7 linked regions of the Homo sapiens genome follow. The protein of the gene in region 3 purifies or fractionates together with the protein of the main gene of each other region. This does not show direct contact. Each region holds a gene or a part of one and is shown on either strand. Other genes may lie near its edges.

What was found.
Region 1: the proteins of SMCHD1 (region 3) and COL6A1 fractionate together in Homo sapiens (co-fractionation; one large-scale study listed by BioGRID). This does not show direct contact.
Region 2: the proteins of SMCHD1 (region 3) and PTS fractionate together in Homo sapiens (co-fractionation; one large-scale study listed by BioGRID). This does not show direct contact.
Region 4: the proteins of SMCHD1 (region 3) and WARS1 fractionate together in Homo sapiens (co-fractionation; one large-scale study listed by BioGRID). This does not show direct contact.
Region 5: the proteins of SMCHD1 (region 3) and AHCY purify together in Homo sapiens (affinity purification with mass spectrometry, with the first as the bait; one large-scale study listed by BioGRID). This does not show direct contact.
Region 6: the proteins of SMCHD1 (region 3) and ECPAS fractionate together in Homo sapiens (co-fractionation; one large-scale study listed by BioGRID). This does not show direct contact.
Region 7: the proteins of SMCHD1 (region 3) and ALDH18A1 purify together in Homo sapiens (affinity purification with mass spectrometry, with the first as the bait; one large-scale study listed by BioGRID). This does not show direct contact.

Annotation. Positions count from the first base shown.
Region 1 is NC_000021.9:45,984,296-45,988,802, forward strand, and holds part of COL6A1 (collagen alpha-1(VI) chain precursor), read left to right. Parts: coding exon 1-174; intron 175-2,230; coding exon 2,231-2,390; intron 2,391-2,648; coding exon 2,649-2,777; intron 2,778-2,859; coding exon 2,860-2,880; intron 2,881-3,203; coding exon 3,204-3,224; intron 3,225-3,314; coding exon 3,315-3,359; intron 3,360-4,507. UniProt on the Homo sapiens protein: Collagen VI acts as a cell-binding protein.
Region 2 is NC_000011.10:112,229,072-112,232,601, forward strand, and holds part of PTS (6-pyruvoyl tetrahydrobiopterin synthase), read left to right. Parts: intron 1-1,136; coding exon 1,137-1,159; intron 1,160-1,554; coding exon 1,555-1,611; intron 1,612-3,530. UniProt on the Homo sapiens protein: Involved in the biosynthesis of tetrahydrobiopterin, an essential cofactor of aromatic amino acid hydroxylases. Catalyzes the transformation of 7,8-dihydroneopterin triphosphate into 6-pyruvoyl tetrahydropterin.
Region 3 is NC_000018.10:2,798,479-2,802,881, forward strand, and holds part of SMCHD1 (structural maintenance of chromosomes flexible hinge domain-containing protein 1), read left to right. Parts: intron 1-802; coding exon of another isoform or gene 803-905; intron 906-2,044; exon of another isoform or gene 2,045-2,262; intron 2,263-4,049; coding exon 4,050-4,074; coding exon of another isoform or gene 4,075-4,157; 3' UTR 4,158-4,403. UniProt on the Homo sapiens protein: Non-canonical member of the structural maintenance of chromosomes (SMC) protein family that plays a key role in epigenetic silencing by regulating chromatin architecture.
Region 4 is NC_000014.9:100,333,015-100,338,079, forward strand, and holds the end of WARS1 (tryptophan--tRNA ligase, cytoplasmic), read right to left. Parts: intron 4,189-5,065; coding exon 4,048-4,188; intron 2,023-4,047; coding exon 1,861-2,022; 3' UTR 776-1,860; downstream 1-775. UniProt on the Homo sapiens protein: Catalyzes the attachment of tryptophan to tRNA(Trp) in a two-step reaction: tryptophan is first activated by ATP to form Trp-AMP and then transferred to the acceptor end of the tRNA(Trp).
Region 5 is NC_000020.11:34,292,690-34,297,196, forward strand, and holds part of AHCY (adenosylhomocysteinase), read right to left. Parts: intron 2,897-4,507; coding exon 2,706-2,896; intron 1,468-2,705; coding exon 1,392-1,467; intron 1-1,391. UniProt on the Homo sapiens protein: Catalyzes the hydrolysis of S-adenosyl-L-homocysteine to form adenosine and homocysteine. Binds copper ions.
Region 6 is NC_000009.12:111,473,700-111,478,206, forward strand, and holds part of ECPAS (proteasome adapter and scaffold protein ECM29), read right to left. Parts: intron 1-4,507. UniProt on the Homo sapiens protein: Adapter/scaffolding protein that binds to the 26S proteasome, motor proteins and other compartment specific proteins. May couple the proteasome to different compartments including endosome, endoplasmic reticulum and centrosome.
Region 7 is NC_000010.11:95,607,943-95,612,084, forward strand, and holds part of ALDH18A1 (delta-1-pyrroline-5-carboxylate synthase), read right to left. Parts: intron 3,501-4,142; coding exon 3,314-3,500; intron 2,351-3,313; coding exon 2,255-2,350; intron 1-2,254. UniProt on the Homo sapiens protein: Bifunctional enzyme that converts glutamate to glutamate 5-semialdehyde, an intermediate in the biosynthesis of proline, ornithine and arginine.

The sequences.
Region 1 (4,507 bases), on a different chromosome or scaffold from region 3:
GTGGAACGCAGGCGCGCTGCACTACAGTGACGAGGTGGAGATCATCCAAGGCCTCACGCGCATGCCTGGCGGCCGCGACGCACTCAAAAGCAGCGTGGACGCGGTCAAGTACTTTGGGAAGGGCACCTACACCGACTGCGCTATCAAGAAGGGGCTGGAGCAGCTCCTCGTGGGGTGAGTGGCCCCCAGCCTCCTGCCCACGCCAGTTCTCACGCGTGGTACCCAGCCTGGGCTGGGGTTGGCCTGGGGTCCCTGTGCGGCTTCAGCTGCAGCCTCCCTGTTCTCTTGGAGGCTGCACGGCCTCCCTGACCCACTTTGTGGGCAGGAAAGAGACGGAGACAGACAGAGACAGAGAGAAACAGAAACAGGGAGAAACAGACACAGAGAGAGACAGAGACAGAGAGAGATAGAGACAGAGACAGAGAGAGACAGAGACAAAGAGTGACAGAGGGACCAAGACAGGCAGACAGAGACAAACAGAGACAGAGACAGAGACACAGAGAGAGACACAGAGAGACAGAGACGGGAACAGAGACAGGCAGACAGAGACAGAGAGAGACAGAGACAGAAACAGAGACAGAGGGACAGAGACAGGCAGAGAGAGACAGAGAGACAGAGACAGAGACAGACAAACAGAGACAGAGAGACAGAAACAGGGACAGAGACAGAAAGAGAGAGAGACAGAGGGAAACAGAGAGAGACAGAGACAGATAGAAAAAGACAGAGGCAGAGAGAAGCAGAGACAGAGAAACAAAGACAGTCAGAGACAGACAGAGACAGAGACAGAAACAGAGACAGAGAGACAGAGACAGAGGGGCAGAGACAGGCAGACAGAGAGACAGAGACAGAGACAGCGAAACAGAGACAGAAACATACAGAGACAGAGAGACAGAGAGAAGCAGAGACAGACAGAGGCAGAGAGACAGAGAGAAGCAGAGACAGGGACAGAGACAGAGACAGAAATAGAGAGATAGAGACAGAGGGACAGAGACAGAGAGATAGAGACAGAGAGGGAGACAGAGAGATAGAAGCAGAGAGAGAGAGACAAAGACAGAGGCAGAGAGACAGAGAGAGAAGCACAGACAGAGACAGACAGAGAGACAGGGACAGACAGAGACAGAGAGACCGGAAACAGAGGCAGAGAGACTGAGAGACTGAGAGAGACGGGGTGGTTTTCCCCACAGCATCAACACCAAGCAGGGCTAGGATCACTGAAACAGACTCATCAGACCCGAAGCATGCGCTTTCTCGGGGTTTTTCTGGACTGAGGGGTTTCCTCTCATCCCAGTGTCCAGCTGTGGGGACGCAGGGGCCGCAAGCCCCGGAGTGTCCAGAGGGGAACGTGGCCTCCCCACACCCAGCCCTTCACGAGGCCTCAGGATCCCAGTGGGGGTACCCGAGGCTGCCCTGTCCAGCCAGGCGGTGCGGGGGGTTTGGGGAGAGCCTCTCCCCGAGGTCGGTCTCAGAGGGCCACATGGCCGGTGTGGGCCGGACATTCCCTTTCCAATGGTTGTGCCCACTTCCCTCCAGAGTTGGTGCCAAGCTGGGACCTGGGGGACTTGGAGTCTCAGGAAGTCGTCCGCTGTCTGCAGGGGGTGCATGGGGGATGTGGCCACACACGTCAGAGTGCGGCCCCCTGTGGAAGCCACAGACAGACACGACTCCCCTAAATGAGCTCGCCCTTCTGGCCGAGATGCTCAGCGTCCCCAGCAGGCTGCCCGACTGCCCTGCGATACTGCCCTCCTTCCTGCTGCTCCCACTTTCCCTTTCGGGGGGTTGGATTTGGGGCATTCAGGGATCGCCCTGTTGTTTGCTCATCACACCCATTTCCTGCAAGAGCCACGGTGACCGAGCAGCCTTGAGTTGAGGCAGCTTGTGGGTAGACGCGGCGGGCATCTCGGAGGGGCACGCTCCCTGCCACCCTCAGCCTCCACTCACTGGTCAGGGGCTTTGCGCCCCAGGGCACCCCAGGAACCGAGCCTCCTTTGGGGTCATGGGTGCCTCTCCTGGGAGGGCGTGGATTTTCCAAAGCAGTTTAGAGAAATGAGACCCACAGGCGTTATTTCCCATGGTGAGGTTCTTTTCAGTAACCCCCACCGTATAGCCAGGATCAGCAAAGAGAGGCGGCTCCTCCCGGTGAGACAGGGACCAGCACCTCCCGGACAGGCTTGGGTCTCCCTCCAGTTCCCCCACCTAGTCTCGAGGTCTCACGCTGCCCTCTCCTGTCCAGGGGCTCCCACCTGAAGGAGAATAAGTACCTGATTGTGGTGACCGACGGGCACCCCCTGGAGGGCTACAAGGAACCCTGTGGGGGGCTGGAGGATGCTGTGAACGAGGCCAAGCACCTGGGCGTCAAAGTCTTCTCGGTGGCCATCACACCCGACCACCTGGTAGGCACCGGCCCCCCCCGGCAGATGCCCCCAACCACAGGGAGTGGCGGCTGCAAGGCCCCCGGCAGCTGGGACCGTCTTTTGGTCCTCGGGAGGGTGTGGGTTCTCCAGCCGGCCACCCTTGCCCCTGAGAGGCCAGCCCCTCCTGCTGAGGAGCCTGGAGCGCCCCAGCCCAGCCTCCCCTCTGGCCCTGTGGGAAGCGGCCCCGGCCGTCAGGGGTCCCAGCCCTGCTCAGCCCACCCTGAACACTGCCCCCAGGAGCCGCGTCTGAGCATCATCGCCACGGACCACACGTACCGGCGCAACTTCACGGCGGCTGACTGGGGCCAGAGCCGCGACGCAGAGGAGGCCATCAGCCAGACCATCGACACCATCGTGGACATGATCGTGAGGCCCCTGCCCAGGAGACGGGGAGGCCCGCGGCGGCCGCAGGTGGAAAGTAATTCTGCGTTTCCATTTCTCTTTCCAGAAAAATAACGTGGAGCAAGTGGTAAGAGCCCTCCCCACCACCCCCAGCCGTGAGTCTGCACACGTCCACCCACACGTCCACCTGTGTGTTCAGGACGCATGTCCCTATGCATATCCGCCCATGTGCCCGGGACACATGTCCCCTGCGTGTCTGCCCGTGTGCCCGGGATGTGTGTCCCCCTGCGTGTCCACCTGTGTGTCTGCCCATGTGCCTGGGACATGTGTCCGCCTGTGCGTCCATCCGTGTGTCCGTCTGCCCATGTGCCTGGGTCGCATGTCACCCTGTGTCCCAGCCGTATGTCCGTGGCTTTCCCACTGACTCGTCTCCATGCTTTCCCCCCACAGTGCTGCTCCTTCGAATGCCAGGTGAGTGTGCCCCCCGACCCCTGACCCCGCGCCCTGCACCCTGGGAACCTGAGTCTGGGGTCCTGGCTGACCGTCCCCTCTGCCTTGCAGCCTGCAAGAGGACCTCCGGGGCTCCGGGGCGACCCCGGCTTTGAGGTGAGTGGTGACTCCTGCTCCTCCCATGTGTTGTGGGGCCTGGGAGTGGGGGTGGCAGGACCAAAGCCTCCTGGGCACCCAAGTCCACCATGAGGATCCAGAGGGGACGGCGGGGGTCCAGATGGAGGGGACGGCGGGGGTCCAGATGGAGGGGACGGCGGGAGTCCAGATGGAGGGGATGGCGGGGTCCAGATGGAGGGGACGGCGGGGTCCAGATGGAGGGGACGGCGGGGTCCAGATGGAGGGGATGGCGGGGTCCAGATGGAGGGGACGGCGGGGTCCAGATGGAGGGGACGGCGGGGTCCAGATGGAGGGGACGTCGGGGCTCCAGATGGAGGGGACGGCGGGAGTCCAGATGGAGGGGACGGCGGGGTCCAGATGGAGGGGACGGCGGGGTCCAGATGGAGGGGACGGCGGGGTCCAGATGGAGGGGACGTCGGGGCTCCAGATGGAGGGGACGGCGGGAGTCCAGATGGAGGGGACGGCGTGGTCCAGATGGAGGGGACGGCGGGGTCCAGATGGAGGGGACGTCGGGGCTCCAGATGGAGGGGACGGCGGGGGTCCAGATGGAGGGGACGGCGGGGTCCAGATGGAGGGGACGGCGGGGTCCAGATGGAGGGGACGGCGGGGTCCAGATGGAGGGGACGGCGGGGTCCAGATGGAGGGGACGGCGGGGTCCAGATGGAGGGGACGGCGGGAGTCCAGATGGAGGGGACGGCGTGGTCCAGATGGAGGGGACGGCGGGGTCCAGATGGAGGGGACGTCGGGGCTCCAGATGGAGGGGACGGCGGGGTCCAGATGGAGGGGATGTCGGGGTCCAGATGGAAGGGACGGCGGGGTCCAGCAGGCAGGCTCCGGCCGTGCAGGGTGTGGACTGTCCCGGGGGCGCTGGGGGCTTCTGAGGGTGTCTCTGTCCGCCCTGCCCTCAGCCGCACTCTGTTCAGAAGGACCTTTCTGGAGGTAGGAGGGTGAGAATGTGGGTCCCCTGCTTCTGTGTGGCTCACATAGGATGACCTTAAACGTTAGAATTAGCTGCTGATAATTAAAACTTGCCATGAGGCTGCTCATGGACCTCAGATTTCTGGCTTCTCCTAAAAACCATCAAACCCAGCAGCTGTGGGCCCGAGTCCCATGGCCATTTCCTGGGG
Region 2 (3,530 bases), on a different chromosome or scaffold from region 3:
GCTTTGCCAGCAGTGTTCGAAGAAAGTAGGTAATTTGTTCAAGGATAAGAGACTTGATTCTTTGAGGTACAGCCTGCCTTAAAAAACAGGTACATAAGTCGTAGAGTATAAAACAGTATGTGGTGTGGTGGCATAAAAAAAAACAGACAAGGTGTCAGGAGATTAGGATTACTGGTTTAGCTACAGCCTCTTCCTTAATCTATGGTATCTCAGTCTCAGTGTACTCACTTACATGTAATATCTAATGGTATTTGTACAGAACTAAAATACATAAATTCATAAAAGTTATTAATGTGTAAAGCACTGATAAAGTTTTTTTTTGTTGTTGTTGTTTTTTTTTTTGAGATGGAGTTCCACTCTTTTTGCCCAGGCTGGAATGGTGTGATCTCCCGTCACTACAACCTCCACCTCCCAGGTTCGAGCGATTCTCCAGCCTCAGCCTCCCGAGTAGCTGAGATTACAGGCGCCCGCCACTATGCCTGGCTAATTTTTGTATTTTTAGTAGAGATGGGGTTTCACCATGTTGGCCAGGCTGCTCTCAAACTCCAGACCTCAGGTGATCTGCCCGCCTCGGCCTCCCGAAGTGCTGGGATTACAGGCTTGAGCCACCACGCCTGGCCAAGATTTTTCAAATGCTTCTCACAAGCACTTTTTAATTTACAAAGCATTACTTTAGACTTTGTATACATTCATGTGAGTAAGGGGACAAGAATTTAAGGCCCAGTAGTATTGCTTGTTCAGAAAGGTACTGCTCAGTATTGGACCAGCTTGCTGTGTAGCTGGACACCTGAAAGACATTTTCTACTTCTACAGGCAGAGACTGAGCAGCATCTTGATGCTCCCTAGTGCATTAACATAAGCAGAATTTACACCCTTTTCAGCCTTGGCCGAGTGCCTCTGCTTAGCCAACATTCCTACTAAGCTCCTTTGTCTCGATTGTGTCTTGCTTTGGTTGCTAAAAAAAAAATCTTAACTAAAATAACAGATGTTTTGGGGTAAATATTTAAGTATAGCTTTTGGGGACAGATCTAATAATTTATGTTGCCAACTTGTGCTTGTATGTTGCTAACTTGTGCTTGGATGTTGATCTGTTGAAAGTCATGCTGTTTTTTTTGTATTTTGTTTTCTTTCCATAGTTGTGGTGACAGTACATGGAGAGGTATGTGCAGAAAATATTTGTGTGGTTTTTGCAGATTGCTGGGCTCTCTTTCAGCCAGTGTGGTGGATTCTGTGTTGAAAACTGTTCCAGTCAGTATTGCTTCATTGTTGGCCCTTGTATATGTGTGTGTGGTGAGCTGCCGCCATTCCAGGCCTCTCCTCTACCAAAGTGTTGTCTTTAATATGCTGTATGTGGACAGGTAGAAGGGCTATACAATGAAAAGGATGCTTGAAGTACATGGTGCTTCCATGCTGAGGTCAATGATTATCTCTGGGATGAAGGCAAATGTGCAAATGTGGGCACAGTCTCTGCACATTGTACTGCCTTTAATAATTTGCCAGCCGTTTAATATGGAGAGCCTATCACAGTAATATTCACCTTTGTTTATTCTTTAGATTGACCCTGCTACGGGAATGGTTATGAATCTGGCTGATCTCAAAAAATATATGGAGGTAATGGCATGTTGGGTGCTTATTATGTGCTATTCCCTAACTGTAATATTTGGTGGCCCCCTATCTACCTCCCCAACCAGTTATCTCCTAAGGTTCCATGACTTTGTGAATAGAACTGGATGTGGGTGTTGGGGAATAGTTGGAAGAACTGCTCGCATGGCCTCTAAAGGTGTTTTGGTGACTTAACGGAAATTAGTCACAGTTGTGTTACAGCGATGGGAGGAAATATAACATGCTCACCTTGTATTCCTTGTTGGAATATCCTGATTTCCTTCAGTTAACAAATTCTCCATTTCTTTTAAGACATAGCTTTCTCCTTGAGACTTACTGTCTTTCTTTTTTTTTTTTTTTTTAAATAGGCACAGAACCAATGCAAACTTTTCTTTTTGGTAGAGGTAGGGGTCTCACTATGTTGTTCAGGCTGGTCTCAGACACCTCCTGCCTTGACCTCCCAAAGTGCTGGAATTACAGGCATGAGCTACTGCTCCTGGCCTTCTCCTTGGAGCTTTCTCTTCCCTCTCTGAATATTCCTTGTACCTTTGATCATAGATTTAGACACCACACTGTGTTGTTCATTCTAGCTTTATTATAAACTCACCAGAGCAGTACCTCATAGAGATAACACACAAGGTGTTCAATGAAGAACTTAACTGATTGTGTCATTATAGAATTCTTGCACTGTAAGAGACTTTGGAGATTATTCAGACCAACTTCTTCAACCCATAGATTAAGATTGAGAGATGCTGAACAGTTAACTGACTTGCCCCAGGTCATATGGCTAGTCATTTGCAAAGCTGGGAGTAGATTTCTTTCCTTCCAGCTGTTTTATTATGCTGTCATTTCACTTGCAGCTTAGGTTTGTTCTGAGATTTGACATTTGCTTGATTAAAATGATGTTATTAGTAATGATTACTTCTTTCACATTACTTATTCATATATTCAACAAATTTCTCTACTTCGCATCAGTTTTTGAGCTAAGTGTACAAAGATGAATGAGATGTAGCCCACAGAGTGTATACATTACTTTTTCTAGGAGGTGAAGAATATTATTAAATAACTGTTGATTTAATAAATGAGTAGAAGAATGAGTGAATGAAGAAACAGCACTATGCTCAAAATACTTTAGGAAAGTTATACAGATAGGGCCAGCATGCATTTATGGGGCAGGGGTTGGGGGGCAGGCGGAGAGAGAGAGAGAGGGAGACAGAGACAGGAGAAGAGGAGGGGGAGGGGAGGACAGGGGAGGAGAGGGGAGGGGAAAGAAAGAAAAAGAAAAAGAGAAAAGAAAAGAAAAGAAAGAAAAGAGACAAGACAGCAACATAAAAGGCCTCAACATATGACTAAATACTGGAGGAGGGCTTCTCTATGCTGTTTTCTGCTTTTGTATGCCTGAAGGACACCACACACTTTCATCAGTAAAAGTGGCTTATCATGGCATGTAGAGTAAAGTTAGAGCTCTACCGTGGGGGGAGGATTGCTTGAGTCCAGGAGTTCAAGGCTGCAGTGAGCTATGATTATGCCACTTGCACTCCAGCCTGGATGACAGAGACCCTGTCTCTAAAAACAAAACAAAAGAAAACAAAAAGCCCTGCATAAGAGGCTTTAATGGAGAAATTGGGACTGGAACTGGGATTGAAGATGAAGCAAGGATGCCCGTTTTCTTGTTATTCATGTGGAACATCCCTTCATTGGATATATTTCAATAACTGTTTGATCTAGGACTTACTCTTTTTGTATGATTCTAGTTTTTCTCAAGAAATGATTGCTGTTACTGTTATTAATGTACCCTTCTTCAAACTACGTCCTATGGAAAATTACATTTTTTTTTCACAGATGCTTAGATTTTTTGCAATAGCTAAAAGCAAAAACCTAGAAAGAATGAGGCAATTTAATCCTTGCTGATGATGAGGAAAAACATT
Region 3 (4,403 bases):
GGGCACCTGCTTGTGACTGTGAAAATTTATGTATTTATATAGAAAAGACATGTGTATGAACTATCTTCCAGGTTTCCAAATAGTTACAGAAAGTTCTTCTTTGTAAAAGTTATTCTTTGTAGAAAGTTCTTATATTGGTTAAATAATATGGTGTCTGGGATATACTCTAAAATACTCCAGGAAAATAAAGTGGCAGAGGATATCAAAATAAGACTTGGCAAAATGTTTTCATTACTAAAGCTTGAAATAGGAAATTCACTGTATTATTCCCTCTGCTTTTATATAGGTTTGCCATAATTTTTTAAAGAAGTATTTTATGAACAGTGGGATTATTTTTTAGAGAGACCAGAACCCACTTCCCACTAAGGAAATTCCTCAAGGTGCAGTTCTAGGCTAAGATGTAAGGTACATGTTTTTGTGCCACAGTCTCAGCACTAAATTTGCCCTAGACCTTCCAGTTACTACAGCGCTACTGTGGACATTGATTTGGAACTTGTTAATTAAGATTTTGTAGCAATTCAGAGGGAGTTTATGTTTTAGTTTATAATATTGTTAGTAGTATAATGATCATCGGTCATATGTGTATATATCAAATGGTATAGATTTACAGTGTTGTACTATACGTGAGTCACATATATAATTTTAAATTCTCTAGAAGCCATATTAAAAAGGAAAAAAGGAACAGTGAGATTAATTTTAATAATAGATATTATTGAACCCAATATCCAAAATATTTCTACATGTAAACAACGTTAAAAATGATTAATGAGCTATTTTACATTCTTTTTTTTTAAATACAAAGTCTTCACAATTCAGAAGACAGCAAATCTCAATTAGGACTAGCTACGTTGCAAGTACTCTGGAGCCACACACATGGCTGGTGGCTACCGTTTTGGACTGCACAGGTATAGAAAGAGCTGATGATCGTAAAATCTTGTATCCTATGCATCCTTACCCCTATTCCATCCTTCAGAGGCAACCTTTGTTTTAACTGTTAATTTTTAGTTACTCTATTGTTGCCTCCACTTTTAAAAGTTACATTATTATGACTATGTAAATATTGTTCAGGCAAATATTGTACTAAGCAAACTTGTGTGCTAGAATTACACTTCCTTCTCTATATGGGTCTAATGTCATGACTCTTACTTAGGCCACCAGTTAGTGCTCCAAACATCAGGCTCAAATAAATCTTCCTTACTCTGTTATTCTTAAAATCACGTGAAGTGTTATTCCAATTGTTACTAAGACTCTTTCTTGTTAATTTTTCTGGAGTTTTTAATTGCCACCTTTTTTTTTCTTTCCCTATGTATCTTAATCACATCTTCTTCCTCCTGTACCAGTGACTAGTAACTGTGCAGGCCTCCTGTAAATCTGCCATCCTGGGTCTTCCTTAGTTACTCTCTTGGATTATATCCATTATTTATTGGATTCCATGTCTTTCTCTCTCTTATAAATTCCTTAGAAAAAATGTGTAGAAAGATAACTTGGAGCCCTTCTATGTCCGAAAAATGTCTTCATTTTGCGTTCACGTTTGATTGAGGTTTTCTGGAGATAACAGGATAGAAACAAGGCTAGAATATACTAGAGGTGAAGGGATTGGGAAATAGTCTAGAAATAATAGGAGACAGTCTGCCTGATTTAGCCCCAGAAACACTTTGGATTCAGAGTCAGTTAGAACAAAAGAGTGAGAAGTCCAGCAACTCTCCCTGTTTGGGAGTCCTGTCTCCCAAACAGGGAGAGTGGCAAATAAAAAGGACGGAACAGAATGGAAAAGGAAAGGAAGCCACAGCCTAGAATGTACCAGATTTTCAACCCAAACTTTGAAAGCTTTGTTTCCTTGTCAACAGGCATGAAAAGATGCCACTACAAAGTTAGATAACAATGGAAATGAATTAAATGTTGGTATATTGGCTTTTGGTAGTTGCTGGCACACTAGGACCTAATGCTGGCCTCTGGGAACTAAAAGGCTGATAACTGGCTCTGCACCTGCACATTTATCTATTTTGATTTTAATTCAACAATTTTTACTTTATTTATTTTGTAGAGATGGGGTCTTGCTGTGTTGACCAGGCTGGTCTCAAGCTCCTGGGCTTAAGCTACTCTCCTGCCGCGGCCTCCCAAAGTACTGAGATTACAGGCCTGAGTCACCATGCTCGGCCCAACATCCACATGTTTAAAGCAAAACCTGTGGACCCATGACGTTGATTTGCCCTATCCCAGTTATAGTTACCATCAAGTCCCACTCGGAGAAGAGACTTGTTGGTAAAACAGTTCTATTTTTATAATAGTAGAAGAAATTCCAGCTAGCAATGTAATCCTCTTTCTTAAATGTAATTGTACAACTAACAGTCATCACACATATGAGGGTAGCCAGCAACGTGAGAGACAAAATTCAAGATTAAGTTCCAAAATCAACATGGAGGACAATTTAGTAAAGAGACTAGACCTCTTTTATAAAATTATAATTACTATGTAGCAGAAAGGAGCCAGGACAAGAATGAATAAACAGATTACAAATATTGTTGCTGAAATAAAAATGTTCAATAGGAGGATTAAAGTCCAAAAAGAAAACTTCCCCAATACAAAAAGAGATAGAAGACATAGAGAACCAATTCAGACTATTAGGAATCTAGAAAGAAGAAAATGGAGAAGGAAATGCTATCATGTGGAAGAGGATTTCCTAGGGATGAATAAAATTCATTGAATGCCCAGCAACAGTGACTGACAAAATACTCACTAAGATACTTCATAGTAATACTGTATCATATCAAGGAGAGGGAGAAAGAGTGTCAGTGATTTTAGAGAAGCCAAAGAACCATATTTTCAGTGCAGCCTTTAGTACATGGGGAGACACACACACAAAGCTATCATTTGTTTAGCTTTGTGATGGCGGTATTAGAAGTTTAGGTGGAAAATTTGGTGTATTCTGGACTGCGACTTTCTCCTCTTTGCATCCTGATTATATTCATGAAATTTGTTAAAATCACTATGAGGGATTTTCTCATCCTCAGTCTTTTCCTATTCTCTATAAATCTTTAATAAATCTCACACTCTCAAGAGGTCAGAGCATTTGAAATAAAAATCTTAACAGTATTGAATATTGGTATATTTCATCCATACAATCAGGAACAAATTTAATAGTAGGAAAGGAAATAGGTACATTATATGTGTTTCTGTATATTTATGTTTATGTTTTTATTTACATATGTATACTGAATATATATTTGTTACTGCTTATAGATCACATACTATGTTTCATCAACTTTAAGATTTCATTAACTATAAAAATGTCATTTTATGAAACATTAAAGAAAAATATTGCAAATTAACTCATGACCTTATAAAGTACATCTGGATTTCAGAGATGTTAAGTGTGAAAAAATATCTTAGAATTCATTAGATATGCTTAGCAATATATGATACTATGCAGTAGATTCCATTGTTTTCTTGAATAGAGGCTTCAGTTTTCTAAATAATTTTCCACTTATAAAGATTAAAAATTAGTTCTGTTAAAAATATGTATCATCTTCTATTTGGAGATAGTTCAGGGAACTATTAGAAAATATTTACATATACCTGAATTTTTAAAATCTGTAGCTATATATGTCAAGGTGCTCACTGTGTTCATCTCTACATGAATGAGATTATGAATATTAAATGTTTTATTTTGCTTGTCTTTGTTACTTTTCTGTAATAAGCATTATAATTCCTGTTCTTAAAATAATAAGTTCATTTAAGGAAAAGGGGGTGAAAGGAAAAATCTGCAGAATTTAGGTCTGAGATAATACCATTTCAAAGCACTGTGATACAAATTACTTATATATGTTATATACTGTGTGTGTGTTAACTACTTTTATTTGGGGGCTTGTTTTGCATACATGTGAAGGAAATGATTATATATAAGGATTTAATTAAATCTGTTTATACCAAGAATTATATTTAAAAGAATATGGTTTCATTGGATATTTAAGCATTCAGGTGTGATGAGGGAATTCAGGGAAAGGAAACCTTTGGTACATAAAACTTTTTTTTCTTTCCCCTTTGACCAGGATTATAACCAAAACAGATGTATGAGAGGTGACAGAGAGAAGAGGCCATTGGTCTCAGTAAGAATGCCCTGCTTTCTGCATCTCTGTTTCAGAAGACCAAGAGGGTGACTTACCAGACTGAGTATTTCTGGGGACAATACAAGTACCTGGGCATGAATTTCCATTTCGATTCAGATGGGACTGGAAACAACCATTCAATTTTATGAATCTTACTGGACATTATGGATTTACTGGAATTATTCCAGACATTATGCCCTTTGGTTGTCACTACCTTGCAAATGTGTAAGAGGAAAATGTGCTAATGTGGCAGTGACTGTAAAACTGGCACATGGCATTTATTAATCCTGAAGAAAA
Region 4 (5,065 bases), on a different chromosome or scaffold from region 3:
CAAGGCAACAGGCTAGTGAGCTATGTGGCCTCTGTGGGTGGCTCACCCCCACTGGCCATAGCCAGCCAGGTGAGCAGGGGAGGGCAGGGGTGGGGCCCAGGCCAGCAGGAGTCGAGACCGGGAGAGGAAGCCTACTTGAGGTCATGGTGCACCCGGGTACCTGAGTGGGACTCGAGCCCAGGCCTCCAGCCTCCAGGGTGGGAACCGTAGTTCCCTCATTTGTAAAATGGTCCCTCTGTATGTGTGTGGAAAGCACCAAGAGTCAGGACAGACTCGCTGTATCAGAGTCACCCTATGGCCTTGGACAAGTCATGTTCTCCTCTCCTAAGCCTCAGTTTCCCTACTTGCAAAATAAGGATGGGCCGGTAGAATGAGCCCAGGGCTCCCTTGCAGCTCGGCCTCTGCCCTGGGCCTCATGTGAATGGGGCCCGACCTGGCTCCCAGCCTGTGCTCCCCGTCACTACACAGCACCACTAAGCACCCCACGGCCAGCCCCTCCTCTGAAAAGCGAGGACAACCTCTGCTTGCATTCTCCATCAGCTGCTGGAAATGAGAAATGTGGTGTGAGAGGGAGCCCGCACCAGGATGCTGCTAAGGGCTCTCCCAGCACAAGCCCATTCCTGGGAGCTGTGGCACAACACCATGGGGTTCCTGGGACTGTGCGCTTTCATCCCCAAATTTTGACTCCAGCAGACTCAAGGTCATCCACAGAAGGGTGAGGGGAGGGGTCTCTGCTCCCTCCTCAGACCTCCCAGACAGAGCACAATGACAAGAGCAGGAGCCAAGGAAGTTTATTTACTCTACTGGGTGACAGGAGGGCAGAGTGCTCCAGAGGAGACCCAGATACATCAACCAAGGACTTCCCTGAGATTTGGCTTTGCTCTTCCAGGCCTGCACATGCTGCGTGATGAAATGAGGCCTGCCTAGACATCTGTGAGGGCCTCGAGGGCTGCTGCCTCGACTTTCTCCCTAGCTAAGTCCACCCGTCCAGGGACACAGCCAGGGCACTGCTCTGTGCTGACTTCCACTGCAGCCAAGGGTCAAAATGAAGCATCTGCGGAGGCCAGGACTCCTTGGCATCGGACACAGTCAGGGGAAAAGCCACCCTGACTCTGCAGGACAGAGGGTCTAGGGTCATTTGGCAGGAGAACACTGGTGTGCCAAGGGAAGCGAGCATGATTTCTGGAGTGGACTACATGCATGGTCTGGAGTTCAGTAAACTGGAAAGTTTCACCCCCAAGTCTTAATTTAATCAAAATTGCTGAACTCTGTTCAATCTTCATTGTTAAAAGCAGCTTTAAAGCTGGGTGATTTCTTAGTCAAATGTATAACGAAGCTTTTACTTATCAATTTCTTTTTGGGAGGGGGCATGGGCTGAAATACATCTTGTGCTCAATAAACCTCCCCACATCAATATTTCAAAGCACTTTCTAGGTTACAATAATGACATTTCAATTCCATATACGCATACATAGAATATATATTTTTAAACAGAGTGGGTCTTAAGAGTATACTTGGAACCCTCGGAGTCCTCCATGGACAAGAACAGGGTGGCCCATGGACTTCCAGCCAAAGGCTCCACTGTGGGGCTGCTTTGGGGAGAGACTCACAGCTGGACTTCTCTATCCGACCATGCAATGTTAGCCAGCACCAATTACCCACAATGCTTTGCCCATAAGAGATAGAAATAATGGAACTCACAGGAAGAAACAGTATTGATAACATACACAGGCTTACAGAGGCCAGGCCCAGTAATTACCATGAGACAGAAGCCTACAGGTGGCGGTGCTTTGACTGGGCTGGGATTATTGATACATTACTGATACATCACTTCTTTTATAAGCATATGTAAAACGAGTGCTACTGAAAGTCGAAGGACAGCTTCCGGGGAGTCATGAACTCTTTCACTATCTCATCCGTGACCTCCTTGCGCCGGGCCTGGTGCTCTGCGATCAAGGGCTGCAGAACCTCTATGAGTGCCTTCTTGAGCTCACCGGTGAGCATGGCTCCGCTGGTGTAATCCTGCCCGGAGGGAGACAGCCACGTGAGAGATGGCTCCACATGTCCTGAGTGGCTCCTTCCTGCCTCGGGCACCAGCTCAGCCCACACCACCCATGCAGAGCCTGGCACGTGGGTGGCACTCAGAAGTGAGATCTGTTGTTACCACAACAATAACCTATACCTTCAGCTACACTTTTCCTAAAACGGCTAGAAACCTGGCTCTGACGATAGCCATGACTTGGCCTCTCACAGTGAAAGGGCCAATGGGGAGGGCAGTCCCCACCCCTACCGATGCTAGGGGCCATTCCCCCAGGCACTAAACAACAACAATTCCTGGCAGCCTTATGGCTTCTGTAAAATCTTGCTAATTTTTTTTTTTTTGAGATGGAGTCTCACTCTGTTGCCAGGTTGGAGTGCAGTGGCATGATCTCAGCTCACTGCAACCTCCGCCTCCCAGGTTCAAGTGATTCTCCTGCCTCAGCCTCCTGAGTAGCTGGGATTACAGGTGCCTGCCACCACGCCTGGCTAATTTTTGTATTTTTAGTAGAGATGGGATTTCACCATATTGGCCAGGCTGGTCTCGATCTCCTGACCTCGTGATCCACTCCCCCCACCTGCCTCGGCCTCCCAAAGTGCTAGGATTACAGGCGTGAGCCACTGCGCCCAGCCAAATCTTGCTAATTTTTTCTTTTTCTGATTGTACTGCATGCTCATTAAGCAAATTTAATAAAGTACCCAAACCACAAAGCAGCAGCAAAGTAAAGAAAAATCACCTACAAATTGCCCACCTGAAAAATGCCCAGAGGTGGGTCTCCCGCTAACATTTGGTAGATTTTCTTCACATTTCTTTCCCTGTGCATTTCATTTAAACATAGTTAACTCCTCCCTGAGTTTTCATTTGGTATCCTTTTTTCACTATCATAGGCATATTTTCCTGTGTCACTAAAACTTTTTTTTTTTTAAAAGAAATGAGGGTCTTGGCTGGACGCGGTGGTCACAGCTGTAATCCAAGCACTTTGGGAGGCCAAGGCGGGTGGATCACGAGGTCGGGAGGTCGAGACCATCTTGAATAAGACGGTAAAACCCTGTCTCTACTAAAAATACAAAAAAATTAGCCGGGCATGGTGGCGGGTGCCTGTAGTCCCAGCTACTCGGGAGGCTGAGGCAGGAGAATGGTGTGAACCCGGGAGGCAGAGCTTGCAGTGAGCCGAGATTGCGCCACTGCACTCCAGCCTGGGTGACAGAGCAGGACTCTGTCTCAAAAAAAAAAAAAAAAGAAAGAAATGAGGGTCTTGCTATGTCGCCCAGGCTGGATTTGAACTCCTGGGCTCAAGGGATCCTCCTGTCTCAGCTTCCCAAGTAGCAGGGGCTACAGATGTGTGCCACCATGCCCTGCATATGAACACTTAAAATAGTTCATGCCCGCATAATAATCCACCCTGTAACAATTCTAATTTAACGTTTCCTCTGTTGTACTGAGTCTGTGTTGAACTTTTTGCTATTATCATTTTTAACATCTTTGTGTGGAAAGCTTTCTCTTACTCAGGATTATTTCCTTGGAAAAAATCTAAGAATGAGAAAACCTGAGGAGAAGCTCTGAACATTTTTGGGCTCTTTGTACCCAGTACCAAACTGCTTCCTGAGGCTGTGCTGATAAACACTCTGCTCACTTGAGTGTGCCTTGAAGCATCTGCTTCATAATCACTGAAAATAGTCAATGGCAACACAAAAGCCCCTACTAATTCTATACTCAACTGTCTTAGCTTTGATCACGTTAACTTACATTTCTCTGATGACTAATAAAGCAAGACTGTTTTGGGTGGCTCCTAAATGAATAGTGATTTGTATCTGCTCTTTCGAGATTTGTTCATGAGGCTTCTGAGCCCAGGCCTAAAAACCATGAGGGCGAGTCTACTCAGTTTTCACCTTGTTTCAGTTGAGCACCTCCGACCAAGCCTTCATGCCTGGCTGTTGGAGCCTTCCAGGCCCCATGGGCAGGAGTGGGTGGCAGAAGGCGGCTGTGGGCCCTTGGGGTTCCCTGCTCACCTTCCTGATCTGCTCGAGCTTGTCGTCGTCCTCGAGGAAGAAGGTCAGGTACATGAAAGACACGTCCACATCACAGTTGCCCCCAAACTGCCTGTGCTCCTCGATGGTGTCTCTCCCTCCAGAAAACGCATGCTTATTGACCTGCACCAGAAGAGGACACAGACACGCTCCTCAGTCCTGCTCATCCTGTGCCTGGACACTGGCTAGAAGCCCAAGTGTGGAAGTCAGAGGTGTGAGTGCTGTCAGATTCTGGACCCGGGAAAGGCCAAGGCGCACAGCCGGTTGGGGGCGCACAGCCAGTGGGGGACCCACTGCTGTTCTTCCTGTGAGGCTTGGGTGTGAGCTACTGTGGGGCTCACTGCAGGAGAGGTGGGGGCAGATGAGCTTTGAACCCCCCATCCTCGGAGACACAGGAGAATAGAGTTGGGAAAGCCAAGGCACTGATTGAACTGAAACCTGGGACAGACAAGTTCCTCAGGTAACAAGCGTCAGAAAAAGGATGGGTAAGGCCAGACATGGTAGCTTGTGCCAGTAATCTCAGCATTTTGGGAGGCTGAGGGGGGAGGATCGATTGAGGCCAGGAGGTCAAGACCAGTCTGGGTAACTTAGTGAGCCCTCCTCTCTGCCAAAAAAAAAAAAAAAAAGGAATTAGCTGGTGTGGTGACGTGCGCCTGTAGTCCTAGCGACTCGGGAGGCTGAGGTGGAAGGATCGCTCAGACTCAGGAGTTTGAGGTTATAGTGGACTGTGATTGCATCACTGCACGCCAGCCTCGGCGACAGAGCAAGACCTTGTTTCTAAAATAATAAAAACTAAAAAAATAAATAAATAAAAGAAAAAGGATGAGTAAGTCATCCTCAGAGTAAGGGAGATGGCAGGAAGGGCAGCCTCTCTTAGGGATAGGTACTGCAGTGTTAATGGGGACAGGAAAGCAGTGGCCAGCCCCACACAGAAAGCATAACAAGAAGGCACAGGGTAAGGCAGTAAGGGAAGGCAAACCCACGAGAAGTGCTGTGCAGG
Region 5 (4,507 bases), on a different chromosome or scaffold from region 3:
TGGCTCTGCCACTTGCCAGCTGTGTGACCTTGGGCAAATCACTTCACCTCTCTGAGCCTCAGTCTTCTCCTCTGTAAATAGGGCTCACAATAGTATGGATTAAGTGAGACAGAAGCCATGTACAGCCCCCCGCCCCAGATATAGATATCAGGAAATCATTCTTTCCTTTCCCATCCCCTTCTGCCTGGGCGCCAAGGACTGAGGCATCAACCCTGAGTGACCAGGGCTTGATACCCCACAACGCCTCCCCCTCAGCAGGATCCACACGGCAGGATCCAGGGTTTGCTCTGCACTGAAAGGACTGGAGCACTAGCAGCCTCTGTGTGGGGGAATCTCAGGCAAAGTCTGGCCAAAAAATGACTACGAGCAGCTACCATGTGTGGGGTACTTGCTTTCTGCCAGACATGACTCTAAATCCTCCATACCCCATCTCATTCTTCCTCATAGAAACCCTGTGAGGCAGCCATGACCATTATCATCACTTACAGATGCCCAGAGAGGAGCTAAGACGCACTTGGGCCACTCTAAATGAAATTCCAGAATAGACACCAGAACTGAGGGCTACTGACCACCAGCCCACACTCCTCCCATGTGGCATGACTAGGGCACAGGTGTGGGGTTCCCAGGAGCCTCTTGTGAGCAAAGGACGCTGGCCAAGCAGAGCCAGCTGCTTCTACCCACAACTGGAGCAGACAATAGTCTTAAGAATTGCAGTGAGCCAAGATCGCACCACTGCACTCCAGTATGGGCAACGGGGCAAGACTCTGTCTCAAAAAGAAAAAAAAAAAAGAAGAAAGCCACGGTGCCAAGGCTGAGGAATGGGGATCATGCCCATTCAGCCCTGGTCAGTCTGTGAAGGAGTGCTGTGCCACCCCCTCCTGTCCACCTGTGGTTGGTTAGAAGCAATCTTGAATGTCCTAATCACTGGGTCAGATCTAACCACTCCCCTCCCCAAGTCCAAGCAGACATGTGCCCAGCCTGTGAAAACTCCATTCTCGTTAGACTTGGTCCTTCCTCAGTCCTTTAGACCGCCATACCCTAGGCAGTGAACCTCTTTTTCTGCCCCGTAGCCCTCCCCAGTTCTTTGGAAAGAGATCCACATCCTTCCTTTAATGAACTTCCCCTCCGCTTCATCATGTAGTTCCCAATCATAAGATCTTGCTCTTCCTGGTTACACGGCTTGACCTGGGTCAATAAACAACTTCCACAGGATTTTAGATGATGATGGGACAAAGCAGCTCTTTCCTGTGGGGTCGCTGGGCTAGGATTTTGTGGCGGTGACTCCTCTCCCTTTCTGATATGTAAGGAAGTCTGTTGCTCTAGCAGTCAGTGAAGCAAAGAGGGCAGAATCCCTTCACAAATTCCACGTCTCAGAAGCAAGCAGGACTTACCCGGAATGCCAGCCTTGGCAATGGCAGCCGCCGCATGGTCCTGGGTGGAGAAGATGTTGCAGCTGGACCACTGCACCTAGAAGAGCCATCAAAACAAGGCTGTTGGTCACTGATGGCTCAAAAGCACCAGGGACGCTGGGCGAGGAAAAGGGAGAGCTTCGGGTAGTGGGGAGAGGCTTGGGATCTAGGCACAGCAAGCTCTAGGATCACAGGCTGGGGATGCTGGGTGGGCAGATGGGAGCCAGAGCAGGGGCGAGATCCAACTCAGGTTTTAAAACCTCACTCCAGTGCTGTGTGGAAGGGAAAGGGTGGAAGCAAGGGGACAACTGCAGAGACTGTTGGAGAAGACTCCAGACAAGAAATATGACAGTAGCAGTGGAGATGATGAGAAGTTGTCACATCCTGGGTCTACTCTGAAGGCTGCACTGACAGGATTTGCAGAGGGATGAGTTGTTGGAGTAAAGGGAGTTGGGAGTGGGGAGGAAAGGGAGGGGAGGAGATGACTCCCAGATTCGTGAATTGAGAGAACCCAGAAGGCTGGAACAGAGGTTCCATTTACTCAGGTGGGGAAGGCTTTGGGAAGAAGAGGGGGCAGAAAATCCTGAGTCTGTTTGAACGCGTTCTGCCTGAGATGAGTACTAGACCTCCAGGGAGCGTCAACGCCCCCGCTCCTGGATATGCCAGTCTTGAGTTCCAGGAGAAGTCCAGGCTAGTACAAAAATGTGACAGTCATCACCAGATAGTGTCTAAAGCTATAAAATCAGACCGCCAAGAGTGAATGCTGAAAAGAAAGAAGAGGTCCAAGGACTCAGCCCTGAGCCCCTCTGTGGATTTTGGCTCCATTGCCCTACCCTGCTTTGGGAAACCAGCTTGCTTCTTGACTCTCTGAGACCTTAGGAGAGCTGTTAATCATTGGCACACATGACCCAGGCTGAACCAATCAGAGCTGCCATCATCCAGCAGCCATGATGGGTCCAGGGTAGGCCTGTGACCCCCGAAGGGCCAAGGCAAGCTGGCCCTTAAGAGACTAAGTAGGACATGGGTGTTGAATTTTTCCTGCCAGAGCATCCATCAGGAGGATGCCTTGAGGGTAGCCAACAGTGACCTTCCCAGCCAGGGAGAAAATCTGCAGAACACTCACCACAAGGGGTGGCAGCACTGGGAAACGGAGGAAACCGAGTGAGAGGGAGGAACCCCTCCAGGCCCGCGGTCAGCTCCACACCTGGAAGGTCCCCACCCTGGCACAGTCGTCTTCTTCCCTGGCTGAACCCAGGGAGGGCAAGGACTCTGGGGTGATACAGCTGTGGGCCTCACCTCAGCACCCAGGGTGACGAGGGTCTCAATGAGGACGGCCGTCTCCACGGTCATGTGCAGGCAGCCAGCGATGCGGGCGCCCTTCAGTGGCTTGGAGGCCGAGTACCGCTCCCGCATACGCATCAGGCCCGGCATCTCGTTCTCAGCAATGTCCAGGGCCTTGCGTCCCCAGGCAGCCAGGCCGATGTCGGCTACGGGAGGAAACAGGTGGGAGTTCCGTGAGTCCCCTCATCCCACCAACCAAGAGGGGCGGTCACTGCATGGACCCCGATCCACGTGTGGACTCAACACACTAGGGCTTAGCACTCTGTCACCGCATTCTCTCACTCATGCAACAAGTATTTATGAAGCCAGAGTACTCAAGAAAGACACGGTCCCTGCCTACCTGCACCTTTCTGACTTGTGGGAGAACACATTTAATCACACAGGGACACAAAAATTACAACATAAAGAAGCGTCCCTTTGAAAAATAGCTCACATGATACTTCCCACTACCCTGCCTTTCTGCTGACACCTACCAACCTCCAGGCCACTCCTCACTCCCTAAAGACTCCCTAAAGATGTTAGCTGCTGGTTCTCCATCTTCCTCTCTCAGTCATCACTCTCGGTGATTCAACACTTATAAATACTATCTAACATTTTGGATTTGACAGTTCCTTGATCTCCTTTTAGATGTAAAAATGCTTCCCCACTCCTGATGTTTCTTTCCACCTGGAGGAACTCATCCGTATAACGAATGCTCTTGGCCTCTCTGCCCCAGGGGAGGTGGGGTGAGCTTGTCTGACCAGTAAAACTGAGAGGAAAAAATGGTGTGCTCAGCTTAGCTCTCCCTTCTTTTTGCAAGCAAGCACTCACCTGCCCACTTGCAGGAAGCTGGTGTTCTCTGCTTTTCCAGAGACCAACCTACCCTGGCCCACCTTGCCTGCAACTGATTGGGTAACTGCTGAATCTGGGGGTTCAATAAGCAGGATCATTTGGATTTCATATTAATCTATATCCTCTGGCTTTGAGGTTATTAGTAATAAAAGGTAATATTTCAGGTGTTGCCACCTAAAATACTAATCTACATCCTCTGGCTTCATGGTTACTAGTAACAAAAAGTATTTCAGGTGCTATCTGCCACCTAAAATGTCTCGAATTTGTTCAAATTCTCAGGCAGGAAAGAAGGATATTATTATGAGCTAACTCACTATCTCAATACTCTCCCCTACCACACTGGTCCACTTCCAAGGTCATACCCTAGGTCAGTCCCTAGGTCAAAGTTTGCAGACTTCCCCGGTAAGGGATGTTCCTCTGGCATGCTTGTAAATCTCCCCTGGAAAATATGATTCAGCAGGTCTAAGACTCCTGGTGATTTTTATCTTTAGGGAAGCTGAGATCCTGCCAAACACCCAAAGAGGTAGGCGGTGGGAGGCAAAGGACTCTGTAGAGAATTTAATAATCTAAGAATTTAATAATCAATAAAATTGTCTGTCAGTCAGCTTCCTACAGTGCATTTTAACAATTTCAGAGATGAAACACGCCTCCCGCATGAGAGACCACTCCGGCTGTGCCTCAACTCAAGCCACCCACCCCAGCCCTCCTACCCTAGTAGGCCATCACCAGTGATAGCTCTCCTTGGAAATCTGGACTTCAAGCACCCAACTCTAGCCACGCCTCATCTTTCTGGTTTTCTCCTTCCAGAGGCCAAGCTCCAACAAGGCTGTGGCCTGTCAGGTGAGAACCTCTATTCAATTCATCCTACCAATTTCTAGTGTCCCTTCTACCCCCTTTCCCTTTGAGAACTCACTTGGCAAAACTCT
Region 6 (4,507 bases), on a different chromosome or scaffold from region 3:
CTCACGCCTGTAATCCCAGCACTCTGAGAGGCCGAGGAGGGCAGATTGCTTGAGTACAGGAATTTGAGACCAGCCTGGGCAACATAGCCAAACCCCGTCTCTACAGAAAATACAAAAATTAGCCAGGGATGGTGGTACCCGCCTGCAGTCCCAGCTACTCAGGAGGCTGAGGTCAGAAGATGGATTGAGACCAGGAAATTGTGGCTGCAGTGAGCCGAAATCACACCACTGTACTTCAGCCTGGGTGACAGAGAGAGACCCTGTCTCAATAAAAAAGAAAAGAAAAGAAAAAAATCTTGTAAGTTTTATTATCTCATTTTACAGATGAGAAAACCGAGGCCTACAAGTTAGGTCCCTTGTTCAAGAACACATTAAGAAGTATCAGAATCAGGATTCAAAACTGTCTCTGATTCCAGTTCCAGAGGTTTTAGCCACTACTCAAAGCAGTCTCCCTGAACAACATGGGGGCTCAATAATTCAACCCATTCATTCAACAAATAATCTTTCTGCTGAACACAGACTACCTATCTGTTGAATCTGTTCTCTCTTTCCTTCACTTTCCTAAATCTGTCTAGAGGCTACACTCTCTGTTACTCCTCCACCTTCTAGTCTCAGGTCAGATTTAGATTCATCTCTAACTCCTCCCTTCTTCAACAACCCTCATCTCGTCAGCCAACAATTTCTCCCTATTTTAGGGATTTTACATTATATTAACTCCTTGCCAAATCCACTTCCACTGTCCCAACTCAGACCCTAAGTTTCTTTTTACTTGGCCATTGTGATACCCTCCTAATTAGTCTTGCTGCTCTTGATCTCCGGATCCTTGCAATCAGTGTTACACCAATGCCACCTGTTACCCGTACAAAACAGACCTACTCATGTTACGCTCCTGCTTAAAAGCTCTGATGGTTCTCTACTGTCTACAGAACAAAGTCCAAACTAGTTCTGTTGGCATTCCTACAACATGCTGGTCCCAACCTATCTCCACAGCATCATCTGCTATTACATCCCACACCAAAAATAATAATAATTTATAAGAGCTTAAGTGTTTACACAGTACATTTTCACATACATTAATCCTAACAATACTATGAGTGAATCTTGTCATTCCAATTTTATGAGGAAGAAACTGAGACTTGCAAAGGTAAGGTAATTTGTCCAAGATCTCAAATCATAAAGGCAGCATGGGCCAAGTCTCAAACCACACAGCTGATCCCCTTTCCCAGTACTTCACACAGCCGTAGCACCCCCATTCCCATCATAACAGACTTACTCAGCTTTTTTTGTTTTGCATAATATTTCCCTATCTCCAAGTCTCAGCTCAAGCTATTTTTCCTTTAGCCTCAAATACCATTCTCATTTCTTGAGGTTTCCAAAGAACTGTGTTAGGCAGTTTACTTACCGTGCTTTGTGTATGTTATTTACATTTGCACATAAATCTGTCTCTGCACTGAATTATAAGCCCTCTGAGGACAGCACCATACATTATTTACTCAATTTTAAAAGTCTGCTTATTGAATTGAAAAAATACATGGGCAAAACAAGCCATATAAAATGGGAAGCATCAAGGCCAGGTCTGAAACGAGAGCTCAGCAACAGGGATCAAACCATCTGAGAACACTGGCAGTGACTTCAATTTTAACATCTATCTTCTGAACAAGGTCAATGCTCCTGTGCCAACTATTCTCACTGACAATGGCCTTGATCACATATTATAGTTTACTGAAAGCATAATTCAAAACAGAATGTGGTGGGCCAGGTGCAGTGGCTCAAGCCAATAATCCCAGCACTTTGGGAGGCCGAGGCAGGCAGATCACTTGAGGTCAGGAGTTCAAGACCAGCCTGGCCAACATTGTGAAACCCCATCTGTACTAAAAATACAAAAATTAGCCAGTTGTGATGGTGCACGCCTTGTAGTCCCAGCTACTCAGGAGGCTGAGACAGGAGAATCACTTGAACCTGGGAGGCAGAGGTTGCAATGAGCCAAGATTGTGCCTCTGTACTCCAGCCTGAGTGACAGAGTGAGACTCTAGTTTCAAAAAAAAAAAAAACCCAGAATGCAGTGAAAGTAAAAAAATCAGAATGGAAATTAATAAAAAATAGAAATATCCGTGGTCATTTTTCCATCTTAACTTTCCTATTTGGTTAAGTAACTAAAATTTAAATGATACAGGCTTGCCTTGGCCTTTCTACAAAGATCAGCTTGGAAGCCTGTATTCTGGTCATTTAAGCAATTAGCTCTTAGGGGCTATTTCAGTATGGTCACAGAATCATGTTCAACACACAGCTTCCCAAATCTCATCCTCTAAAAGAGCTACCAGGATTCCCAGCACTAGCAGAGGCTCTCTCAGAAGACACCTGACATGCTGATTATCTGGCCAACTTTTGCAACTGAAGTTTCCCATGGCTATGTCAAATGGTCAAATTGAATAGTGCATCCTTCAAGATTATAGGCTGTTGCTCCTTCATGAGTTGCCTTTATCCCAACGAAGATCAGATTCTAAGGATGCCTTATAATTATAAAGCCCAGAATACGAAACCACTAAACAGCTGACCAGGTGAAAAGTCTCAAATGCTTCCTTCCCTGTTGGAAATCTCTCAACCCACTCCTGAAATATTAACTATAATGTCAACTTTTCCATAAAGTGGCAGAAGATAGTATTAGCAGAAAAACTAGCCACATGTCTTGCATTGAATTTCATTTCATTTGCAATAGTTATAATCACTCTAAGCATAAGGAAAGAAAGCTACAGGCTCTGACCTAAACTAATTTACAAACTAGATTTCAGAACTGCCTTTAACAGTCAAAACTAATGGTTTTCTTTTTTGGCAACATACCCAAAAATCTACTATGTTCTGTTCAGTAACATCAGAATTTTTTTTTTTTTTTTTTTTTTTTGAGATGGAGTTTCACTCTAGTTGCCCAGGCTGGAGGGCAATGATGCAATCTCAGCTCACCACAACCTCCGCCTCCCGGGTTCAAGTGGGAGTCTCACTCTGTCACCCAGGCTGGAGTGCAGTGGCACAATCTTGGCTCACTGCAATCTCTGCCTCCCAGGTTCAAGTGATTCTCCTGCCTCAGCCTCCTGAGTAGCTGGAACTACAGGCGTGTGCCACCACAACCAGCTAATTTTTGTATTTTCAGTAGAGACAGGGTTTCACAATGTTGGCCAGGCTAGTCTTGAACTCCTGACCTCAAACCTCAGGAACTCTAAACCTCAGCTTCCCAAGTAGCTGGGATTACAGGCATGCGCCACCAGGTCTGCCTAATTTTGTATTTTTAGTAGAGATGGGGTTTCTCCATGTTGGTCAGGCTGGTCTCGAACTCCCAACGTCAGGTGATCCACCTGCCTCAGCCTCCCAAAGTGCTGGGATTACAGGCGTGAGCCACCGCGCCTGGTCCTTTTTTCTTTTTTTTCTTTTTTTTGAGATGGAGTCTAGCTCTGTCACCCAGGCTAGAGTGCAGTGGTGCGTTCTCAGCTCACTGCATCCTCCAGTTCCCAGGTTCAAGCAATTCTCCTGCCTCAGCCTCCCAAGAAGCTGGGACTACAGGTGCACGTCCCAACACCCGGCTAATTTTTTTGTATTTTTAGTAGAGACGGGGGTTTCATCATGTTGGCCAGGCTGGTCTTGAACTCCTGCTCTCAACTTATCCCCCAGCCTCGGCCTCCCAGAGTGCTGGGATTACAGGTGTGAGGCACCGCTCCAGCCCTGATTGCCACATCTTATACACTACAGAAGGTTCTTTCTGGATACTGCGCCTGGCCCCGATTGCCACATTTTATACACTACAGAAGGTTCTCTCTGGATACTAGTTAGACACACACACACACACAAAAAGCCATTTTGATCTTGTTATGAACTATATATTCTCCCATGCAGGACAGGAATAACACAGTAGTAGTAGGGCAGAATTAATACAAATTTTGCAATCAGAGAATCTAAGTTCAAGTCCTAACTGTCTAATGAGGGTAGCTCTACCCCTGAGACAGTACCAGTACCAAACTCACAGGGTTGTTCTGAGGATTCAATTAGTTGATACATGCAAAACAATTAGAACACACGGTAAACACACAATAAATAAACAGCTTTACTATTCTTCTATTATAATCACTGACTCAAACATGAGGTTTGTGAAAGGATAACAAATGCTAACAATAACAAGTCTCACCCCAAAATTAACCTGCCTATTTTTGGCAACTTTTTTTTTTTTTTTTTTGAAACAAGGTCTCGCTTTGTCACCCAGGCTAGAGTGCAGTGGTGTGATCTCAGCTCACTGCAGTCTTGACTTCCTGGGTGCAAGCCATCCTCCCCACTCAGCCTCCCAAGTAGCTGGGACTACAGGCGCATGCCAACACACCCAGCTAATTTTTATATTTTTTGTAGTAACAGGGTTTCACCATGTTGCCCAGGCTGGTCTCGAACTCCTGGACTCAAGTGATCTGACCACCTCGACCTCCCAAAGCGCTGGGATTACAAACTTGAGTCACCGCACCCAGCCTTCTGG
Region 7 (4,142 bases), on a different chromosome or scaffold from region 3:
TTCAAATTCTGGTTCAATAGCATACAGACCACATGACTTTGGACATACTACCTAACTTTATGTCTCATGCCTCAGTTTCTTCATCTGGAAAATGAGAATTCATCTTGTAGAATGAAGTGAGAGCATGCTTGCGACACATTTAGCACAGTGCTGGGAATGTAGTAAATGCTCAGTAAAATCTGTTACTGTCATTAATGCATTTCACAAGGAATTTAACTCAACCAGCTTTCACTCTGAGCTGGTGTTGGAAGGACAATGAAATGATCTTTTGTTCTTCCTTCATCCTGGATTTTCATTTGAATGCTGGGTGCCCCAGCCCTTAAAAATATGTTGCTATTTCTTTTTCAAGTACATGGAGAGTATAAAGATCAATGCAAGTGATGTGATAATTACATCAAAATCCCAACATAATACAAATGGGGAACTAAAAATAAAGAGTATCATGATTAAGAATAACTGAGTTAAATTCCCTTTCATAACCTTTTAACAATTTGGTGAGAATTATTTCTCCAGGCAGATCATCTACTCAAAAAGTTCAGAAGGATTAAAATGTGTGTCTTTCTGTTTTGTTTTGTTATACAGATAGGGCCTCACTCTCTCCCAGGCTGGAGTACAATGGCATCATCTTAGCTCACTGCAGCCTCGAACTCCTGGGCTCAAGGGATCCTCTTGCCTCAGCCTCCTGAGTAACTGGGACTACAGGCTCACGCCACCACACCTGGATAATTTTTTCATCTCTGTAGAGAGGAGGTCTCGCTGCGTTGCCCAGGCTGGTCTCGAACTCCCCGACTCATGAGATCCTCCTGCTTCAGCCTCTCAAAGTGCCGGGATTACAGGTGTGAGCCACTGCCCGTGGCCTAAAATGTTTTGAGTGGTTGAAATAATTCTCAAATATTCAGAAAACGTGTCATAAATGTATTATTGGAGGTTTTTTGTCTGTTTTGTTTTTTGAGATGGAGTTTAGCTCTTGTTGCCCAGGCTAGAGCGCAATGGTGCGGTCTCGGCTCACTGCAACCTCTGCCTCCCAGGTTCAAGCGATTCTCCTGCCTCAGCCTCCCGAGTAGCTGGGATTACAGGCAAGTGCCACCATGCTCAGCTAATTTTGTATTTTTAGTAGAGATGGGGTTTCTCTATGTTGGTCACGCTGATCTCCAACTCCCGGCCTCAGGTGATCTGCCCGCCTTGGCCTCCCAAAGTGCTGGAATTATAGGCGTGAGCCACTGCGCCCGTTCTGGAGTTTTATATACTGGTACCCCTGAAAACGAGAGACTGTCCAAATAACCCCAACACGACAGAGGGCTGGAAATTTTATACCTAATGGAAAGGGACAGAAGTGCCCTTCTGAAGCTTTTTATTTCAAGGTCTGCTGTAGAAGGTAACCTTGTACTTCTGGCTGGCCTGTTTGTTTTGATGCTGGTACTTAGGCCCACGGCACCTTCTTTTGTCCTACCATTGTGGGGTTTCCTATCTCCGAGGCAACCTGGCTGTGCCATTTTGACGAAATAAGTCTGTAAAAGGAGTGCTCTCAAGGGACACAGCATGTACCTCTGGCGCAGCCTGTGTAAAAAGGCAGGCTGTGGTTGCCCACGCTGTAGCGGGAGAACCCAGGCTTTGGACTTGCTCAAGTTTGGGTCTGAATGCCAGCTGTGGGACTTTGGGCAAGTTACTATACTTCTCTGAATCTCATTCTCCCTCTTTGAAAAATGAATACAAGTACCTGCCTTCTTAGCATGTGAAATGCTTAGAAGATAGGCCTTCCACCAACTCATGGGAGGTTTCATTAATTATTCTCCCTGATAATCCTACCTTGCCAGAAGTCTGTCTCTATTTTTTTTTTTTTTTTGAGATGGTGTCTCACTCTGTCCTCCAGGCTGGAGTGCTGTAGCGTAATCTCGGGCTCACCGCAACCTCTGCCTCCCGGGTTCAAGCAATTCTCCTGCCTCAGCCTCCTGAGTAGCTGGGATTACAGGCATGCACCACCACACCTGGCTAATTTTTTGCATTTTTAGTAGAGACAGGGTTTCACCATGTTGGCCACGCTGGTCTCGAACTCCTGACCTCAGGTGATCCACCCACCTCGGCCTCCCAAAGTGCTGGGATTACAGGCGTGAGCCACGGCACCCAGCCTGTTTCTCTCTTATCTTGACCAAGCATGTGACAGTCAAGGGGAGGTGTCTTTCCCACCTCAACATACCCCTAGACCACACAGTGCTTCACAAGGAACTTCTTTCTTCCCAACCAGAGTCTTTCTTACCCAGTCCAAAGCGGTAACCATCAGAAAAGCGAGTGCTGGCATTCCAGAACACACAGGCACTGTCTACGTGCTGCAGGAAGAACTCCGCTGTGTTTTCTGCAGGGTGAAGAAGGAGAAACCAAGTTAGGATGATACCCAGAGAACATCCCTGTTTCCAGCCATTGACTGGTGACAGATCAGGGCAGGGTCTGGGTCCCCACTGGGGCCTCTCCATGTGTTCTCACGTATTAAATACTCAGGCTTATGAAAAATCTCAACAGGAAGAAGACAAGTTAGCTTCATCAATCACGGTGTTGTGGAAAGACTGAGTTGGAATCCAGATCTCCCATGCAGGTGACCTGCCTAAACTTCCTACTTATGGGCTCCAGAGCCAGACTTCCTAGGCCTGAACTCCAGCTGTACACCTGCTAGCTTTGTGACCTTCTGCAGGTGTACAAAACTCTCTGTGTCTGGGTCAAAAGGGACTTACAACATGACCTAGCTGATAGGGTTGTAGAGAGGATGAAACACCTGGGGAGTACTCATGCTAGTGCCTAGCACACAGTGAGTGCTTGGTAAATGTTGGCTGTTAATACGGGTGGTACTGCTCTGGTGCCCTAATTAGCTGACTGTAAATTCCTCATTGGGGCCCTACTGGCATCCTCCACCATTGAGGCTCCAGTATCTGACACCCAGGAGTGTCCCTGCATACATATTTGTGGAATAAATGAATGAATGAATGAATGTGCAGAGTTGGTTCTGCCTTGGTTTCCTCAGCTGTAAAATGGGTTTATTTTAACTACCTTGTAAGATTTGCTGCACGCATTAAATGATAGTGCCTCTGACAGGGTTAGTCATCTTCGAAGCAGAGCTAATCATCCCTGCCCCTCCTCCTCCAGCTGTGACAATATAATAAAGTGATGTGAAAGCACTCATCAAAGTACCAAATGCAACCACTACTAAACATTACCATAAGCCTACTCAAATGATGTTTTTCTGCAGCCCAAGGGGGGCTAAGAGGAGCAGGATCAGAAAGCAGCAAAGGCAGACACTGTATGCGGGAAGCATCTGGACACTGACCGTCCTCTGTGACGATGACATCCGTGTGGGAGCTGCCATACTTGTGGATGTGGTCAATGGCATCCTGAACGTTGTCCACTACTTCAATGCATAATTCCAGGTCCCCATACTCAGTTCGGAGTGACTTCACTTCGGAGGGGCTGAAGGTCAGATAGGAGGCAAATTTGGGGCCTGCATGAATTTTTACCTGGAACAGAGGAAGTCCAGGGGCAACAACATAAAAACAACTGAAATAAGCAAGTTCTAGGATAGAACAGAAAGGTGAGCCTGTAAAACCACAGCCCAAAGTGGCTCCTGTAGCCTCAACAACTGAACTAGTCCTACTTTCCTCCCTCCAGCATGATCTGACTGGCCACTTGCCAGCAATGGGCCCTCAAGACAGTTGGAACAGGGATTGAAGCAGGAAGCCTTGAACGTTAAGGATGTGCAAGGTGGGCCGGGCATGGTGGCTCACGCCTGTAATCCCAGTACTTTGGGAGGCTGAGACGGGTGGATAACTTGAGGTCAGGAGTTCAAAAACCAACCTGGCCAACATGGTGAAACCCCGTCTTTACTAAAAAAATTAGCAGGGCATGGTGGCAGGTGCCTGTAATCTCAGCTACTTGGGAGGTTCAAGCAGGAGGAGAACTGCTTGAACCTGGAAGGCAGAGGTTGCAGTGAGCCAAGATTGTGCCACTGCACTCCAGCCTGGGGCACAGAGCAAGACTCCGTCTCAAAGAAAAAAAAAAGAATAAAAAAGAATGTGCAAGGCGTTTAGTGGGTTATCAACACAAGGGCTTGACTTCTGGCATTTTCCTAAAATGAATACTTGACAATAAAGATCCCAGTT